Regions from separate parts of the Homo sapiens genome. Here region 1 is linked to region 2. The links come from fine-mapping of genetic effects on gene expression. A gene starts in region 2. The other region holds a variant in brackets. All regions are shown on one strand. Distances are from middle to middle. Region 1 overlaps FKBP15 (FKBP prolyl isomerase family member 15). Region 2 holds the start of SLC31A2 (solute carrier family 31 member 2).

Region 1 (2,912 bases), 38 kb before region 2:
TCATCTTTCTTTTCATTTGGTTGGAGTGATTGTTTTTTCTCTAAGGCAGAATCATTATTTAGAGAGCTAATATGCAAAATGATACAGATTGGTATTGGTACATGTGTTTCTACTGTGATTAGTACTTCCCTGAGAGATGGAAGCAATTTTGTAGATCTTTTACAAGAACTGGGCAGTTTTCAGTAGTTAATTTAGCCTTCTTTACTAGAATCTCTGTTGTTACTAAAGATCACTCTCTGGGCAGCATGATGCCCAATCCATAGCAGGTGTTCAATTCATATTTATTGAGCGAATGTTTAGATTCTTTTGGGAAATGTTGGTCTTCTCGCTGATGTTGCCTATCACTAAAGCTCCAACTAGTATGTCTTTTGACTTTGTATGTGGTATTCTTGTGTTTGTTTTCTATTTAGAAGTTCAATAATTTTATTGAATTCAAGTCTGTCAATTTTCTCCCCTTGTTATTTGCTTTTGACATTATGCTTAGAAAGCCTCTCCACTTTCAGATTATAAATATCACATGTATTTTTAAAGATATTGATCAATATTTTATAATTAGATCTAAATTTTTAATCCATTTGGAATTTGGTGTATGCTATAAAGTAACTTAATTTTAACTTAATTCTTCTCTAGTGGTTAGTTCTTTATTGAATATAATCGTCCTTTCTCAATTGAAGTGAAATATATAACTTAGACTGATTTTTAGTATTCTTTTACTTTGATAGAAAACAAGGAAAGGGCGATGGTCTTGAAAAAATTTTTTCTGGAATATACTTTATATTTTACATTTTTGTTTTATTTCTTGGAAAAGCTCTATGTAGATTTAACATCTTAAAGGAAGATAGGATTTCTGAGGCCTATTGTTATAGGATTATTTTTTTCTGGTCTGGAAATGCAGTGTAAATAAGAATATTTTTATTAAAAATTTTATGTGCTACTTATTCATTTTAGAATAATTTAAAATTATAGAAAAGAAACATATTGAACAAAAAGGGCATTCATCTTTATATATTGCTTTGTAACCTGATTTTTAAACCTAATGTTGTATCATAAACATTTACATTAACATAAATGATTTAAGTAAATAAAGTGGTTTAAAGGAAACCCAGTGTTCCATTATATCATTTTATTATAATTCCTTTCACTCTGTTATTAGACATTTAGGTTGGTTAAGAGCTGTAGAAATCTAAAACTGGGATGTTTTTCT[A/G]GAAGAGAATATAAGGGGACAAGGTGAAGTTCTAAAGTAAAAGAATGTCTGAAACTTTGGTCTTTGAACTATAGCATAGCAGATTACAGTCACTGTATATTGTGCCTCAAGATTTTCTGTTTCTTATATGAAGCAGGAGGTAGAATAACTTTGTTTAGAGTTATAGCTTTGATTTTATGAAAAGCTTTGGTTTTATGAAAATAAAGAATGTTGGAAAAACATCCTAAAACTATATTATCCAAAAACAGCATGTTAATCAGGTGCAGTGAATCCTACGTTATCTGATTTTCATTGAGTACCTTGAGGACTATGGGGATGATTTGTAAGAAGCGAAGAGGCTGGATTATTTCTTGCAAAAGACCACTTTTTTTGTGGGAATAGATTAGATTTGTCTTAAGGCAGTTACTGGCTTGGAAAATGATACATTCTGAAGAGTGGTTAGTTTAGCTGCTTCAGACAATAGAACATCAACCTCTGAGAATATTTGTGGAAATTAACTATATTTACTTATTCAATATGATTATAGGGAGAAGGACTCTTACTTTATTGCATAGCAGAGTGCTTTTTCTCCACAACCCACACCCTCAACTCTTGGCCTTCCGCTTACCTTTCCTTCCTCTTCTTTGCCTAGAAATCCTGTGTTGGAAGCAGGTTTAGGGCAGACAGTCAGCCTCAGTCTTCAATGAGGGACCCCGTACAGAGTAACCCAAACGCTTGTTCCTGTTTCAGGATGTGAACACTCTGCAAGGAGGTGGGCAGCCTGTGGTGACTCCGTCCGTCCAGCCCTCTCTTCATCCGGCCCATCCAGCGTTACCACAGATGACCTCACAGGGTAAGGAACCTCTCTGAGGCTCTGTGGCCTTGAACTGGGTCAGCATGAAAATTATCGTCACTGTTCCTTAAACTGTTAGGCTGCATTGTTTCAGTACTGAGGACTAAAGTGTAAATGTAAGAGTGTGACGCTTGTCAGTTTGTCCCTGGGTAAGGCATTTTCATACCCAGAGATGGACCTGGCTGCTGGTTGTGACTTCTGCTGTGTTGCACTGTCAGTTTTGGAAATCTGCACTCAGCTATTGAGACATCTCCCTGGGTGTGTTCTGCACTTCCTGTCGGGTGGGATCCTAGGGCTGAGTCAGAAGCACATGAGAGCACCCAGTTTCCTTCCACTGGCTCATTCCTGAGATTGCAGTAGAGCTGAGTGTAGGGAGACTAGGCAAGGAAAATAGTTGAGTCTGAAGCATGATAGTATGTAAGGTGCTAGTCTAGACTCACACCAAGAAGCAAGGGTGGATAACAGTGAAAATGTCTCCCTTTATCTTAGCACCTCAGCCATCTGTTACTGGGCTCCAGGCACCTTCTGCTGCCTTAATGCAAGTGTCATCTCTCGATTCCCACTCAGCTGTATCTGGAAATGCCCAATCCTTTCAGGTAACATTTTATAACCGTATTAATTATATCCTATAATTTGCTGTGGTTCTAGTCAGTCTCTTTTCTTCTTCCTGTACATTTCATACAGTAGCAGTTCCCCAAAGTCAGAGTTTGTAATTTTTTTCCCTTCCTTGGTTACCACTTTCTCATCTCTAAACCAGGCAAAGGATAACCTACGTTCCAGTGTCATAAAGATTAAATGCAAGAACAAGTAGAGCCCCTAGTACAACGTAGTAAAGATGCAATCAATGTTTGTTTCCTTTTCTTTTCACACATATCC
Region 2 (2,912 bases):
AGGTCCCAGTTGCTAGGCTGACTGGCTGGGGAACTTTTGCAAGTGCTTTCCATCTATTTCCCTTTTTAAAGGACGGCTGATCATTTCACTAAATGGCCTACATACACTTCCTATATCTTTTTTTTTTTGTTTTGTTTGTTTGAGGACGTCTTGTTCTGTTGCCCAGGCCGAAGGTCATGGCTCACTGCAGCCTGGAACTTCTGGGCTCAAGCAATCCTCCTCATCCTGCCTCAGCCTCCGAGTAGCTGGGATTACAGGCGCCTGCCACCACTTGTGGCTAATTTTTGTAGAGACGGGGTCTAGCTATGTTGCCCAGGCTGAGCTTCCTGTATCTTAAATTCTATGACATTCTTCATGGGATGAAGAAAATGATATGACTTCTTCAAAGACGAACGAGTCTTGCAAGCTGTCGTTCTCTCCAGCCCAGGTGAACCCTACCAAGAAAAACAGCTTGTCTGAAACGCTGTTTTCTGACTGAAAGTGTAGGGAAGCTGGAAAGTAGCTGGTTCTGTTTTATTCCCCGAAGAATCAGGCTACAAACTTGACAAGAGCAGGGCCGGGGATGTGCGCTCGGTGTGCGCGCGGGGCTGCGGGCTGAAATGCGCCGGGGGTTTCCCTTTCGTGGAAGCCTTCCTGGAATCTCCCAAGGCGCTGCTCTCCGCCCTGGGGCGCCGGCCAGAGGTCCGGGGCCGGGGGCCCCGGACCCAGCTGTCTTCAGCCACCGCGCCCCCACTCTCAAGCCGCGCCACCGCGGGCGCTCGGTAACTGCTCGCCTAGCCGGACTGCCTCCCAGCAGGAGGGACAAATAAAGAGGAAAACCACAGAGCCACCGCAACCTATACCTGCCGCGTCCCCCAACCCTGTTCCAGCTGTTGGCAATGCTGCCAACACACCCTTCACCAGCCCCGGGCCAGCGGCAGCGAGGATTCGGGGTGCCGAGATGGCAGCTCCAGGAGACCCCGCCCCAACCGCCCACCCTCTTCACCGTAGCGCCCGGCCCTTACCGCCATGGTGAGTGCGCAGGGCGGGCGCCAGGGCCGCGTCTGCTCGCTCGGGTCTCCTCGCTCCGAGTCAGTTCAACCGCCGCCGCCGCCGCCGCCGCGATAGCTACCCTGGCCGCACGGATCACGTGGTCCGGGCGAGGCGGCGCGCGGGCGCCTGGGAGTTGTGGTCCCCACACGCGCCCTACTTCGGCGTCCTCGGGCGCGCCCCCTGGCCGAGACCCAGGCGCCTCGCCCCAGGTTCCCAAGGGCTGAGGCTTGGCGTTCCCGGAGTCGCGAGCGAGAGGGACCACCTGCTGCCCTCTGTCTTCGCCCTTCCTGTTTTGCACTTGGCTTGTCTTGGCGATTATGAGAATGTTTATTGCTCATTGTAATAAACTACCCCAAGCGTAACATATATTGAGTTGAAATGGGCAAGTCCGTGCTATGGACGCAATAGCAACACATTTGGAGTAAATTAAGTCAATTATGCCCTAGATTTTTAGTGTAGTCATTACAAGATAATTACATTTTTCTTTTTAGAAAAATATTTTCCAATCTGATAAGCCAAAAGGAATACACCCGTGTAATTTTGTTTTTCTTTGATTACTAGGGTAGTAAACTATTTTTCTTACGGGTACTTCCATTTCTGTGTATTGCCTGTTCATTTCACTGATCCAGTTTTTTGATGGGGAGTTTCTTGTAGGGTGAGGGATTTTTAATGGTTATTGATTCTTAAGCATATTTAGGAACCCTTTGCTAATCAGCCTATGAGTAAAGAGGCTCTTCAGAGAAACCTTACTAAGGACAGTATTAGCAGAGACCTTGAGCCTGGAGCTAACCTCAGTTCACATCCATACGCATCAACTATTGGCTTTGGGACCGTAGGCAAATAGCTTACATCTCTGAACCTCAGTTTTCTGGTCAGTAAAATGAAAATAATAATAAAATCTATGTCATAGGGATTAAATGAAAACATACATGTTAAATTATCATGTAACCTGGCAGTGGGAGCTTGTTCAGTAAATGGTAGAATCCTCAGGGTCACACAGCTTTTTTTCTTTTCTTTGAAACAGAGTCTCGCTCTGTCGCCCAGGCTGTAGTGCAGTGGCGCGATCTTGGCTCACTGCAACCTCCATCTCCCGTGTTCAAGCAATTCTCCTGCCTCAGGCTCCCGAGTAGCTGGGACTACAGGCGCGCACCACCATGCCTGGTTAATTTTTGTATTGTTAGTAGAGACGGGGTTTCACCATATTGGTCAGGCTGGTCTTGAAATCCTGACCTCGTAATCTGCCCGCCTCGGCCTCCCAAAGTGCTGGGATGCTGGGATTACAGACGTGAGCCATCTTGCCCGGCCCACACAGCTTTTAAGATTCTCAGTCTGAAAGCTAATGGAGCAGCTTCAGGGAGAGAACATGGGCCGTGGCACTGTGATGGGGCTGGAGAGGGAGAGCTGCTGCTGTCATGGTTTACTGGGCCATGGGGAAGCACTGGGGAGAAGGGCTAAGGGTATCTCTGAAGCATCTGGGTTCCAAGAGCTGGGGAGGGCTTTGGGTGTAGCTTTTCACCTCTCTGGGCCTTACATGGGAAGCAGGAGTAAGATAATCTGACCTTCACATAAGTGGGCTCTGGTGCACCCCACTCCCCCCACCTGCATTGAAGAATCTGCAACACAGCTTTATTCATTTGACGGTTTTTGTTGGCTTTGTCACAATCTGATGACCTTTACACTTACTTCTAACTTCCTCATGGATGTTTTGGTTACAACACTTAGCCAGGGAGTCCTAAAATTTCTTTCTGTACCACCAGAGGCACTCCTTCCCTGTCCCCCAGGCAGAGAGCTTGTTGCAAACCATGGGATCCTAGATCATAAGATCACAACACAGCCACCCAAGCCTGGGTCCATGGCAAGAGATTCCGGATTCTGTGTTT

The links. PIP is the estimated chance that this variant, and not a neighbour inherited with it, causes the effect.
Region 1: its variant is the best candidate, but not a certain one, in a credible set for the expression of SLC31A2 in whole blood (TOPMed, PIP 0.89).

What each region holds. Positions count from the first base shown.
Region 1 is chr9:113,187,513-113,190,424 of GRCh38, reverse strand. FKBP15 (FKBP prolyl isomerase family member 15) reads left to right here. Exons shown (of 28, transcript NM_015258.2): 13 at 1,934-2,036; 14 at 2,526-2,632. Among named protein-coding and RNA genes, the nearest start is that of FKBP15, 32 kb to the left of the region's middle. RefSeq lists an enhancer at 1,691-2,890. The variant A/G (reference allele first, on the strand shown) is at 1,205.
Region 2 is chr9:113,149,173-113,152,084 of GRCh38, reverse strand. It overlaps SLC31A2 (solute carrier family 31 member 2), which reads right to left and starts at 1,078. Exons shown (of 4, transcript NM_001860.3): 1 at 1,005-1,078. The coding sequence starts at 1,010.